Linked DNA regions of Homo sapiens. The protein of the gene in region 3 purifies or fractionates together with the protein of the main gene of each other region. This does not show direct contact. Each region holds a gene or a part of one and is shown on either strand. Other genes may lie near its edges.

Region 1 (4,161 bases), on a different chromosome or scaffold from region 3:
ACAAGATGCACATGTTATTATAAATTAGAAAATGGAAGAGAAGTAGAAATAAATCCATGAGTATTATATATAAGTAACAGAACAAAAACAACAGGATAATGTATCCCCCCCAAAGGCCCAGTAGAGACCATCAAAGCTCATTCTGGGGGTAGTCAAGGAGGGAGTGGAGGGAGAAAAAGAACGCAGACCTTCAACCACTAATGAAAGAACTGAAACATCTGTATGTAGAAAAAAGGTAAAATCAACTCACTATCATCTTCAGCCTTTTGGTTATCTCATTTAATGGTCACAGTTAAGTCCGTGAGTAGGGTTTTTGTACTTGAAGTTCAAATAGAAGATTAAGATAAGCAACTTCCTCAAGGTAAGCAAACTAATTAATAGATCAAGGTTTTGAACTTTTAAAATTTCACTCCAAAGCCCTAAATTTTTTCCAGTATTGGTCAACACTGAGGGTAGAAGGGTTGGGTGAACAGAATATTAACAAGGTAAATTTCTCTAATCAGAAGGAAATGATCATCCCAGATGCTGAATTTTCCTTGCTATAATACTACATCCTATCTTCTCCAAAAATCACTTTTGAAAAAGGCACACCCCCTAGATTAGTACTTGCATACGACACTTGAGGCCTACTCAAAGTACTTCAAATCAGGTGCTCAAAAAAAGGGAAGGACCGTGTTAGCTTTTAAGCAGTTAGAATTTAAATTGGTAACAGTAAGAACTAGTATAGGTTATCATGCAATCTATTATTGATGTCATTTCCTATGAGGTCTTCCCCAACCACTTTTTTTAAAGTAGCACCAAAGTCATTCTTGCACAGGGGTTCTTATCCAGGCGTCTATGTACGGAACGCAGAATGTTTGTAAATATGGACAGGTAAAAAAAGAAAAAGATTTATCTTAACCTCTGACATTTACTTATCTCTTCAGTTACGAATGCAGGCAAAAATTACAGCGATGTGAAATACCTGATAGCAATTTTAGATTAAATTTAAGCCAAATTCTTTAAAGATCATTTACAGTCCTCACTAATGCTTTACTAAAATATAGATGTCATATTTAATATCTTCATTATTTCATAACTGGTTTCTGTTGCAATTCTATGTATTTCATACATTTAAAACCATCATTCTGTGGTTCATCACATAAAAAAGTTAAAAATCCATACCAGCACATCATTGTTTTATTTTCTTCACAGCACTTATCACTGATATTATATGTTTCCAGTAAGGAGCCACTGGAGTAACCAGTGTCTGCAGAATGTGCGTTGTCTGGCATGGATCCAAGATCTAGAAAAAGTAACTGACTCATATTAAGGTACTCAAATATTTGTACAATAGAGTCCTAATACAAAACAATACACAGGAGTCTTGACTTGAGGCTTTCAATTGCATACTAAGTTAGAAGGAACTAAGTTCTACATCTCCAGCTTTTCCATTACTTGCTTTTTCTTAATTATGTACAATTTAGATACACATCCAAAAAGAAAACAAATACAAACCTATTCTAGTTTTGCTCCAAGAATGACTCAGTTCCAATGTAAAATTAGAGGACTTAACAGCAAAAGGCATAAATAAAAGTTTCTTTTAAAAAACAGTATAACCTACCATACTTTTTGTTTTTTTCTAACATGTGTTTTGTGTCACTGTTACTTAGAATAGGTACTCGAGTGAACGACCCTTCCAACGGAGGGCTTCAGGTTCTGCAGTGATATTTCTTCCTCGTGCCAGATCCTTAGTACAGCCCATGTGGACAGGCTCCCACGTGAACATTTCTTTACAGAAGCCACAGGAAGACCTTGAACGTCATGTTGCTCGCGCCCTGGCAAGGCCCCCGCCCTTCTTAGCTGGGGCGTTCGAGGGACCCCAGGAGAGGCAAGGAGTTCAGCAGATTCCCAGACCCGGAGAGGCGGTGCGCGAAGGTTCCTCTACGCGATCCCCCTGCCGCGCCCCACATCGCTCTCCACCTAAGGGCTTTCCGGAACAAAGCCGTGCGGCCGCGCCACCTCCGGCCCACCCGGCCTGTCCCACCGACCCGGCCCCACCCTCACCCTCAGCTCCAGGGACCCCCAGCAGGCCGAGATCTTCACACCCCCGCGCTCCGCCTCGGCTTTTCGGTTGGTCCGGGAGAAAACTAGTAGGAGCAGAGGCGCCGCCGTCCGTTAGCCTCGGTCCGGAACAGCGGTGCCGAGGCTCCATCCCGGGGTCCCCTCGCCCCATTACAGACCAGAGAGAAGGACTGGAGAAGAAAAAACCGGGGCGCTGGTCGCCAAGCCCCCGAAGACCTGCCTACAGATCCCCAAAGCCTCGCCCGCCCGCGCCTGCGACGCCATCCGCGGCCGGCGCGCAGCCCCCTAACCGCCGCCACCCGCCCAGCGGTCACTCCCCCACCCCGGGCGCGGCCCGCGAGGCTCCGCCAACCTCCACAGGAAGGTGAGGGGGGCGCGAGGCTCCGCACGCGAAGTGGATGCCGCCGGCTCCCGATCCCGCGGCCCGCAGCAGCCCAGACCGCACACGAGGAGCCGCGGCGCCCAACACTCTGCCCACCACGCGCTCTGCTTCGGCTGGCCGCCGCCGACTGCAGCAGCTGCGGGAACCCCAGCGCCCGCATCCCCGAGGGAACCAGCCCCGACTCCCCGGTTCTGTTCTCCCTTTCTACCCCCACGCCGTCCCGGGACTCGCAGTCTCCGCCGCGCACGGGGCCGGTTCTGGGGGAGGGAATGTAAACAAATCGGGGTTTTATAGTTACCTCACACTCGAGTGCCGTGTGCATCTCCTCTCCGCTCGGTACCAAACCCCGGCTGCACCAAATCGTGTATTCACCAAAGCAGACTGCGCTAACTGCGTCGCAGAAACCGGCGCGTCTGACACCCTGCTACGCTTGCGGCGTACAAGGTCCACTCAGCTCCCTGCGCAGCCGCACCCCGTCCGCCTATGGGTGCTACGCTATGGGCGTACACGCGCCACCTAGCTATTCACTTCGGATAACGCCAGTTGCGTAAAGGAGTCGCACTACTCACGGATTCCACATGGATCGTCCGAGGAATAGGAAATTCAAGTCTACGCAAACTGCGGAGTTCCGTGGCTCCGCGCTAGTTTTGTTCCAAGAAAGAACGCCGCGGGGGAGTTGGGGCGGCTTCTTAACGCATGCGTGGAGCGCCCTTTATCATTCGCCTTTTCTCCTGGCTTTCGAACGTCGGTTGCTGAGGCCTTGGGCAAGGCGAATGAGTAATGGAAGCTCTAAACCCAAACGCTTTAGCCAAAAAGCTTCAGAGTGATCAACTGGAATGTTCATCTGTATACGAGTTAAACATCTACGTTAAGTTAACCCCGCCCCCTTTGTTAAAGTAACCTTTTCAGTCTCTTAGGGCAACAGCGAACTTTATTTAGTGCTAAGTGCGAGGTGTTTTGCCTAGCTCCCCTTCCCACCCATTTAATTCTAAAGCACACTTACTGCGGGTCTTCCAAACCTAAAAGAAAAAGTTGAGTCCTGAGAACATGTCACACATGTAGAGAAATTCTCGAGGCTTTTGGCAACTTTCCAAGGTCTTCACTCCTCTACTCCTCAACTGATCGACTATTTCTTAACACTCTATGACAAAAAAATCCCGATCCAGCCAAGCAGTTCCATGGACTTGTGCCTACACCGTGCTCATTCTTGCCCTTTGCTCACGCCATACATCCCATCTAAATTGTCTCCTCCCCTCTTAAGCAACCACCAACCCACATTTTCTTAAAAGGTGACTCTGGACGTCTTATTTTTGCTTCATTACTCTGCTTCCTGGCTCTTACTTAATCCACATGTTGAGGCGTATCTGCATTCCGCCTGGGGTGCCTGTGTTTCTATATCCAACCAGAATCTACTTAACACAGCGAGTTCTGGGGGTGCCTTACTGGTGTCTAGTAGAGAAAATAAAACCATGAACAGCAGTAATCGCAGGCTTGACTGTGTGTCAAGTACTCCACATATATATTAATTTAATCACCATAACACGGTGAGGTAGGAAACTGAGGCACACAAGACTTTAACTTGCCTGGTATCACAGAGCAGGTAGAGAAAAGAGTTGGGATTTCCAAACCCATTCAGTATGGACGGCTAGGTAGTCCCGCTAACCTGCATATTATACCTTCATGAAAGAAGGTTATTTTTTGTTTTGTATCTCTAC
Region 2 (3,500 bases), on a different chromosome or scaffold from region 3:
AAACCTGGATATTAAGGCAAATTTACCAAAGGTCCAAATTATTTTTCCACAGGACACAGCATGAAACAAGAGCTAAAGAAGAAATGTGAGGCTGGGCATGGTGGCTCATGCCTGTAATCCCACTACTTTGGGAGGCTGAGGTGGGTGGATAATTTGAAGTCAGGCATTCAAGACTAGCCTGGCCAACATAGTGAAACCCCGTCTCTACTAAAAATACAAAAAATTAGCCGGTCAGTAGTGGTGTGCACCTGTAATACCAGCTACTCAGGAGGCTGAGGCAAGAGAATCGCTTGAGCCTGGGAGGCATAGGTTGCAGTAAGCCTAGATCATGCCACTGCACTCCAGCCTGGGCAATGGAGCGAGACTCTGCCTCAAAAAAAAAAAAAAAGTGAAATTCAAGTTAATGGCAACTTAGATAAAATAATATACTAATGAGACACAAGAGAGGTATGGAGCTGCCTGAAGACTTGTGATTTCAGATGTCAGGTAAAATCAAAAGACCCGAAGTCAAGTGTACACTGGGAGTACTTGATACATCTAGAACACCCTTTAGGTGACAAAATGCTCACAAAACAAATACTACATTGAAATCAATAAGATTTTCTTCTGTAACATTCAATTATTCTACAACCCTAAAACCTTCTAAAAATATATACCTATATGACATTCTATTCTAGAACCTCTGGCTTCTAGAAAACAAAATTTCCTTAACAAATCAAAGACTGGAATGCAGATTACATGTATATAACTAAAAATATATACATGGTATTCCCACATAGGTGGTATGCTTTTTCCTTCCTTTTCTTTTCTTTTTGAGACGGAGTTTAGCTCTCGTTGCCCAGGCTGGAGTGCAATGGCGAGATCTCGGCTCACTGCAACCTCCACCTCCCGGGTTCAAGTGATTCTCCTGCCTCAGCCTCCCGAGTAGCTGGGATTACAGGCGTCCGCCACCATGCCCAGGTAATTTTTTGTATTTTTAGTAGAGATGGGGTTTCACCACATTGGCCAGGCTGGTCGTGAACTCCTGACCTCAGGTTATCAGCCCGCCTCAGCCTCCCAAAGTGCTGGGATTACAGGCATGAGCCACTGTGCCCGGCTGAAGACTAAATTTTTAAGAAAAGGAGGATGGGTGTGGTGGCTCACGCTTGTAATCCCAGCACTTTGGGAGGCTGAGGCGGGCAGATCATGAGGTCAGGAGTTCATGACCAGCCTGGCCAACATGGTGAAACTAAAATACAAAATTACTAAAAATACTAAATTACTAAATGCTAAATTCACTATAGTGCAAAGCATTTGTATACCTAGGAGGTGCTAATTAGATACTTGTTGAAGATTAATTTTTTTTTTTAAAGATAGAGTTTCACTCTTTCACCCAGGCTAAATTACTAGATTACTGAAAATATTCTACCAAAAATACAAAAATTAGCTGGGCATGATAGCGGGCGCCTGTAATCCCAGCCACTTTGGAGGCTGAGGCATGAGAATCACTTGAACCTGGGAGGTGGGGGTTGCAGTGAGCCAAGATTACACCACTACACTCCAGCCTGGGCAAGAGTGAGAGACTCCATCTCCAAAAATAACAACAACAACAAAAAAACAAAGAAGCCATAACATGAAAGACAGAAGCAGTAGGACATATTTGGAGACTAGCAGGTAACCTAGTTGGGGTGAAGCATAAAGGCATATGAAGAAGATTTGAGGGTGATAAAGCTAAAAAGGAAGGTTAGGAAAATCAAGAGAATATTAAATGCTATGTTAGAGTCCTATAAGTAGAGTAGACATTGTGGGCTTCTGCATGGGTGACATACAGAATGATTTGAAGTCATGTATGCTATTAATGTATGTCAAAGGCCAGGCATAATGTTACTAATAGAATCTGGAACTAGCATAATAGCTGAGAAAACAGAAAAAAGGAGAAGTATGCTAAAAATTACAGAGCTGGAAGGAACAGGTGACAGTGAATAAAGAGAGATGAGGGAGAGAAGATAGCCAAATATGACTAAAGTAGGCAACAGTGCTAGATACCATTAACAAAACAACTGAAATAGGGGGAAAATGACGTTTTGAGGAAAAGACCAGTTCAATTACAAGAAGTTCTATCTGGCTGGCCGCGATGGCTCACACCTGTAATCCTAGCACTTTGAGAGGCCGAGGCGGGCAGATAACCTGAGGTCGGGAGTTTGAGACCAGCCTGACCAACACAGAGAAACCCCGTCTCTACTAAATATACAAAATTAGCCAGACATGGTGATGGGCATCTGTAATCCCAGCTACTCAGGAAGCTGAGGCAAGAGAATCACTCGAACCCGGGAGGCAGAAGTTGCGGTGAGCCGAGATTGCACCACTGCACTCCAGCCTGGATAACATGAGTGAAACTCGTCTCAAAAGAAAAGAAAAGAAAAAGAAGAGGCCAGGCGCAGTGGCTCACACCTGTAACCCCAACACTTTGGGAGGCCGAGGCGGGCGGATCACCTGAGGTCAGGAGTTCGAGACCAGCCTGGCCAACATGGTGAAACCCATCTCTACTGAAAATACAAAAATTAGCTGGGCGTGGTGGCAGGCGCCTGTAATCCCAGCTACTCAGGAGGCTGAGGCAGGAGAATCGCTTGAACCTGGGAGGCGGAGGTTGCAGTGAGCTGAGATCGCACCATTGCACTTAAGCCTGGGGGACAAGAGCGAGACTTTGTCTCAGAAAAAAAAAAAAAAGAAAAGAAAAGAAAAAGAAGAAGTTCTACTGACGCATGTGAAAAAACGTCCTAGATGTGTTTGATGTGCAGCTGGAAATGCAGATCTACACTCAGTAAAGAGAGCAAATGACTGAAGTAGATTTAAGAGTCATCAGCATCGCAGCAAGTCCAGAGGCAATAGGAGTGGATGATGCCAAGCAGGTGAGCATGGAGAAAGGAAGGATCTGAAGAGAGAACCTGGGAGACACTTGTATGTAAAGAAAAGGATGGCCGGGCACAGTGGCTCGGGTCTGTAATCCCAGCACTTTGGGAGGCTGAGGCAGGTGGATTGCTTGAGCTCAGGGGTTTGCGACCAGCCCAGGCAACATGGCAAAACCCTGTCACTATGAAAAAATACAAAAATTTGCCAGCCGTGGTGGCATCTGCCTACAGTCCCAGCTACTCAGGAGGCTGAGGTGGGAGGATCATTTGAGCCTGGGAGACAGAGGCTGCAGTGAGCCAAGATAGCCCACTGCACTCCAACCAGGGTGACAGAGTAAGACCCTGTCTCAAAAAATAGAAACAAAAAGAAAAAGAAAAGGATGTGGAATACTGAGAGGGGAAACAGGGAAGTACAGTCTTACAAAACTCAAAACTAGAGGGTTCCAAGATGGAAAGAATAACCAATAGTAACAAATAATGAAGCAAGGTAAACAAATGGGAACAATAACAAAAACAAGAAAGTTGTAAAGGCATGTGCAGCATGATATAATGGAAAATGGGAGAGGAGTTAGAGATGGACTCACATGGACTCACATACCATTTCCACCATTT
Region 3 (3,500 bases):
AAAGAGTGTGGCTGTTATGAGCTGCTGTTACTGTAAATAAAACTTTTGCTTTCCCCCATTCTATTCCATCTCCCTATTTGCCCTCTTATTTGTGATACATCTTAAACAGTCATGCAGTCATCTTGCTTATGTATGTGTTACTTAGAATGGAGGGTGGAAGGGACTCTCACAAATGGAAAGGCAGGAAATAATTATCATGTGGTGACGATCAAGGATGTATCCCAAAATCTGTAATGGAAGTTTTCAGGTGTATTTATTTAATTTAATTTTCACAACTGTCCTAAGATGTAAGAACTATTATCACCCTATGATCTAGATGAAAAAACTGAGCTTCAGAGGCATTCAGTAAATTGCCTTAAGTAGCAAAGCTAGAAAATGGTAAAGATAGGATTTACTATCATTCCTGGCTTGCTCTGAAGCGTGTGGTATTTCCACTATGCCACTTTCCTCTCCCTGACTAGGAGAGACTACTTAGTAGAATTTGGCTGTCTTAACTATCACTCCACATGCCTTTGCATGCTCATAGCTTAGCTCCCACTTATAAGTGAGAATACCTGGTTTTTGGTTTTCTACTCCTGTGTTACTTCACTTAGAATAATGGCCTCCAGCTCCATCCACGTTGCTACAAAAGACATTATTTCGATTTCACTGTGACATGTGAAGAGCACATTGTGGCAGAACCATTCTAATCCCATAGTAGGAACTTATATAACACTAGAATTCGTCTAGTTGGACAATCAGAATAGAAGTAAACACCTGTCCCTACTTATGCCACACTGTTCCCACCCTACCACCTACTTTGATTTTAGTGTTGGCACTGCTTCTACTATCAACTATTGTCCACACACAGGCAGTGAGAGAGCAAAGAAAGATCCATCAGTGCATTACAATTTCAATAACTAAGAATTGTTCATAACCTTACTCTCCTGCAGTCACACTTCCACTTTTGCACTTAAAAGAAATGGCTATTTGTTTTAGCTTCACTGGTGCAGAAAGTTTCACTTACAAAATGGGCATGTTCTGTTCACACCTCCCTGTTAAATAACAGAGCCCAATTATGCCAGAACAGCAAGCTAGAGGTCAAGTTTACACCTTTTTTATTTTTTAAATGTGGGTTCTTATGCTTCTGCAATTCACAGTTCATTGTGAGCGTAGAGATTTGCATGGCTTGTTTCCAAAAACCTCTTTTTTGCTTCAGACTGAAGGGAAGGTAAGAAGGGCTTTTTTTCCCCCAAATCTTCTTAGTGACCATTAGATGTAAAATCCCCGTGATGAGGAGAGGCAGAAGGTATTTATTTGGGGTTGAGCAGAAACATAGACTCTCTTAGAGGGAACACTTAGCTTGCTATGGACAATTGTGTCATTTCTGAAATATAAGAAAGGAGAAGCTAAGAAGCCACTAACAAGAAAATCCTGGATGGAAGGACTAAAATCAGAGTATATTCCTTCTCTCTGTTCCCTCACCCCATCCCTCTCTCTCTCTCTCTCTCTCTCTCTCTCTCTGTGTGTGTGTGTGTGTGTGTGTGTGTGTGTCTTTCTCTTCCTCTATCTATGAGTCTGGCTCTATTGTTGCCTACTTGTGGGCAGTTTGCTCCCTTTGTGTTGCCAATTTCTCTCCCCTCCAATCTGGACATATTCTTGGTTCCTGTCTCATAGGGATGTGGGATTGGTGATTCATTCCTGAATCTGTGCTTCCCTTTTCAGTCAGTGACCTGACTCCCCTCCCAGACACTCAAGCTAGAAATTAGGGAGTAATTCTGACCTTTGCCACTATATTTCCTCCCATAGACAATAAAAACCCAGAAAACCCAGGTAATTCTTCCTTCCATGTAAAATCCTCTCTAACCTATCTCCACCTCTACTGTCACCATCCTAATCCAGGCTGCTGTCATCAACCCTATTGGCTATTGCAACAGCTCCCTTACTAAACTGTTTACATTCCAGTCCTTCCCCTAAAGTTCATTCTCCATACCATGTCTAACATTAACATTAAGTATGGCTACCACTTATTTAGGGCTGCCTTTTATTTACAGGCTAAACACTTTATTCATTATGTCATCCATCCTCACAGGAGTCCTGTGATTATTTCCACATTGCAGATGAGAAAATTGAGGCTCAAAGAGGTTAAATAAGTGGTGCTGAGGTCACAAAATTCACATCTCTGGTTCCTTTTAATCTCAATCTGTGGGTCTAAGAGACCTTAACCACTCACTCGATCTAGGTAATCCTATACATCATTACACACTCTCACACTCTCTGTTCTTTCTCTTTTTAGCATCAACATTTGTAATTTAGGGTTTTTTTTTTTAATTTGTTTGTTGGTTATTACCCTCACTGTGCTCTTAAGTCCATCAGTGCCACAAAAAGATCTCCTTTTTTCATCACCATATAGCCAGGACCTAGCCTAGTAAGCATTCAAAGAACATATAAAAAGTATAATTGAACTGAACTGCTTAAACAATAGTTCAAAGTTTCTGTTTAGAAGTATTAAGCATAAATTAAAAACCTTGATATATCAACTAGTACATTTCTGATGCCGACTATTTCCCTAAAATGTTGTCTTCTGACTTGGGCTTCTCCTATCAATATTCCCTGCACCTATCCTTTTCACCTCAGAAAAGCAATACCTGTAGAGACCTGAGAAAAGAGAAAAGAAATCAATTTAGAAATCACAGGTGGTCAGACATATCCTATGGGTAGAAACTAGCACAGTCCAAGGTCTCAGGGTACCATCAATACTATTATCTGGACCTCAAGAAAAGGACAGCTTCATGATTTGCTTTCAAAGTTATCTCAACCTTTTATTTTTCTTGGTTGTCATTCTGTGAAGGAAATCAGAAAATGACTTGTTATCCACCTACACATGGGAGTGAGGAGGCTGCGTCTGTAATCACTAAAGCTCTCTGCATTTGAAAAGAAAACATAAAGGGAAATAACTCTATTTCCTTTTCCATGGCTTTTTGAGGACTTTGGCTGCTTTAAAGCCCACACTCAATCAGTATATATTCAATAAGCCCCATCCTATGAGCTATTTGCTAGGTTCTATGGAGAATATAGAATCATCCACAACGATCTGTGTCCCTGAGAAACTTCCTATCTTTTAAAGGTGAAGGAAATAAAAATATTTTACCCTAAAATATATTTCTTTAAAATATTTTGAGATCATTGCCTCAGGGCTCACAGACTGAGGTGGGGAAAATTTGCATTTGCAAAGAATCTCCATGAATGTAGCCATGCCTCCCCATTCTATGCTTTTCTCAGATCCAGGAGAGATTGAGCCTGACATCTTTAAAAGTTGGAAAAGAAACATTTACCATCTGTTCTCTCTGACATAGGTTTCATCTATAACAAGGCCAACTCTGTTACCAAGCCTCTTACTTCCTTTCTCCAATAACTTGTCTTGCCACCAAAAACTGTTTTTGAACATACTCTGAGTTCACATTTATTCTGTAATTTCAAGATGGTATATAAGCTTTTCTTACCTATTGGGAAATTGAGTC
Region 4 (2,685 bases), on a different chromosome or scaffold from region 3:
AAATGATGACTTTAAAAAAATGTAAGCAACAAGTCCATGTCATAGTCAATAAAAACAATCCTGCAGTTGGGTTTTGTATCTGATCCCTGCTTGGAGTTTTAGTTTAAAGAATCTATATGTAGCAAGGAAAAGGTGCTTTTTAATTTTAATCCCTTTGATCAATATGGCTTTTTTCCAAATTGGCTAATGGATCAAAATGAAACCTGTTGATGTGAATTCAGTTATTGAACTTGTTACTTGTTTTTGCCAGAAATGTTATTAATAAATGTCATTGTGGGAGATAATAGTATGGCGTCTGTCCTAGAATGCTTTGTGTCAGTTACTAATTCTAAAATCAAATTGGTAGAAGGTGGTACTACATACGATGTCTATGATTTAGGAGAGGGAGCCGGGGCAGCCTATATATGTGGAGCCTCTTGACTGAAGCTATGATTCATCTTAATGCTTGTATCCACTTCCTTTAATGAGCAATTTAAATATTAGGGCATACACCACCTGTCTTTTTTGAAAGTTGTATGTGTTTTATTTTCCCAGGATTACTCTCTTAACATCTTAAAGCAGTAAAAGTATACAGTATTAATGAAACCAAAATTGCCCTTTTAAAGCAGGCTAATTTTCCAAATATTTATTTAGTTCATAAAATTCACATTTTATTTTTTAAACATTATAGGTTAGAAGAATTACAATTGTAATTCCCTGGCACCATGATAGCATTATTGTGGTAGTACTGCTAGGTGAGGGAATGGTATGTTAAGTCTGTTTTTGAAAAGTAAAATGAATACGAGTTCACAATCACGAAATACAGATTGTTAAAAGTCTTGTAACAGAAAAATCCAAAGTTAGTATAGTTTTTAAATAAGCCAAAACTACATGGAGCAAGTTGCTGTCATAAAAGCTGCCTAAAAAAAAAAAAAAAAAAAAAAAAAGCAAGTCAGTCAGTGTTGATACATGAGTTTTGAAAAGTGAGAAACTTACTTAAAGGATGACAAAATCATGGTTTGTTGAATGAAATTAGCCTTGGAATTTAAGCAACTTAAGTCACATTTTAAAATTTGTTCTAAGCACAGTAATAAAAAAGCATATTTGAAAATTTCATTTTTTGTTTATTCAGTAATCATAAAAATGTTAGCCCATCCCACCTATCAATACAAAATGGTTCAAGAATATAATCCTCTCTTGAGGACATTTCTGTCAGTATTCAAGAAAGACCATCTAGAAATCTGTGTCACATCTGACACCTCAAAAGCTGACTGGAAATTTACGGGTTTTGGAAAAAATAGATCTTCAAGTAAAATATTCATTTCATACTTAGGCTATTCAGAAAAATTTAAATTTCATGGAAGCATATATTCATGAAGAAAAGATCCTGCAGTATTAATAAGAACTCCTTTGTAGGCAGGGAGGTACCTAGGATTAACCACTAAATATAATGCTCTTAATCCATAAATTTTCTATGTATTTTTTATAGGCTCACAAACTTAAAGTGCATGGTTAAAAATTAATGTAAAAAATAGGATACTGAATGGTGATAGTGTTTATGTAACTATTCAGAGGTAATTTATACAAGTTAAATTCTTAGTATGCCATAAGCAATATAACTTGGATTAGTGTTCATTGAGTCAGCTTGAAATAGGTCAAGTGTACTGGCCAGGTGCTGTGGCTCACGCCTGTAATCCCAGCTACTTGGGAGGCTGAGGCAGGAGAATTGCTTGAACCCAGGAGGTGGAGATCGTGCCATTGCACTCCAGCCTAGGCAACAAGAGTGAAACTCCATCTCGAAAAAAAAAGAAATAGGTCAAGTGTATATTTCATCATCTCAACACCCTTGGCATAGAGGTGCTCAATGGACATGGTGAAATTTTACTGTGGATGTATACAGGTAGGCCACTACAATGTGATACTTCCTAAAATTTACTCCAATGAAAATGTTAATACAAAATTTTTTGAACTGAACTCTAATACATTACCAAAGCAAAGTCCTGATTTTTTTCTCACTTTTAATGCTTAGAGGAGAGGACCTTTATAAGGAGCCTGTAACATCCCCTACTATTACATACTTTTTTTTCTGGGGAAGGATTTGTGTTTTCATCTTTGAATTGGGGTCTGAGTCACCCCTTAAAAAAACAGCAATTTAATGAAACAGCATATGGGAAGATTTATAAATCAGGAAAAGAAAGATGGTTATATGTAACTTCCTTTCAAGATTAAAAGGAAAAAAGTAGAGGCCGAGGCCAAATAATGCCCCCTTTAATTTAATCCACTGTAGCTGAAAATCTTCAGCAAGCACGACAATAACTGATTTTTAAAGAGACCAAGAGGAAATTTTGTAGGACAAAATATTGGCCCTGTCTAATGCAAGAGGCAAAGGGAGAGGGGGAGAAGAAAGGGCAAATAAATATAGTTGAAATCTTACAAAGATAATGAAAATCTGTTGAATTAGAATATTAATAATTTTAAAAGTTTTATGCGTTTCCAGTTTCAGAACTGTGAAGCTTTAAAGTGCATTAAGAGAACTGCAGGCACCATCAAATACCAAATTGACAGAATTCAGAAGAAAAAAACAATCTGAAGCCTTATTTTTAAGGCCTTTACAAGATAAGGCAAGTTGTGTTAGCTCTGCTCTCTGGCCTTTTAATGAGTTACATGATTTTTAAGCATGCTCTGTTGAAAATACATTTTGAAAAA

What was found. Proteins that work in one complex are often made in the same cells at the same time.
Region 1: the proteins of P2RY10 (region 3) and SLC39A10 purify together in Homo sapiens (affinity purification with mass spectrometry; one large-scale study listed by BioGRID and IntAct). This does not show direct contact.
Region 2: the proteins of P2RY10 (region 3) and MON2 purify together in Homo sapiens (affinity purification with mass spectrometry; one large-scale study listed by BioGRID and IntAct). This does not show direct contact.
Region 4: the proteins of P2RY10 (region 3) and RUFY2 purify together in Homo sapiens (co-immunoprecipitation; one large-scale study listed by IntAct). This does not show direct contact.

The regions. Positions count from the first base shown.
Region 1 is NC_000002.12:195,655,865-195,660,025, reverse strand, and holds the start of SLC39A10 (zinc transporter ZIP10 precursor), read right to left. Parts: upstream 2,801-4,161; 5' UTR 2,769-2,800; coding exon of another isoform or gene 2,417-2,768; intron 2,361-2,416; exon of another isoform or gene 2,216-2,360; coding exon of another isoform or gene 2,047-2,215; intron 1-2,046. UniProt on the Homo sapiens protein: Zinc-influx transporter. When associated with SLC39A6, the heterodimer formed by SLC39A10 and SLC39A6 mediates cellular zinc uptake to trigger cells to undergo epithelial-to-mesenchymal transition (EMT).
Region 2 is NC_000012.12:62,473,326-62,476,825, reverse strand, and holds part of MON2 (protein MON2 homolog), read right to left. Parts: intron 1-3,500. UniProt on the Homo sapiens protein: Plays a role in regulating membrane trafficking of cargo proteins. Together with ATP9A and DOP1B, regulates SNX3 retromer-mediated endosomal sorting of WLS away from lysosomal degradation.
Region 3 is NC_000023.11:78,955,391-78,958,890, reverse strand, and holds part of P2RY10 (putative P2Y purinoceptor 10), read right to left. Parts: intron 1-3,500. UniProt on the Homo sapiens protein: Putative receptor for purines coupled to G-proteins.
Region 4 is NC_000010.11:68,342,908-68,345,592, forward strand, and holds the end of RUFY2 (RUN and FYVE domain-containing protein 2), read right to left. Parts: 3' UTR 501-2,685; downstream 1-500.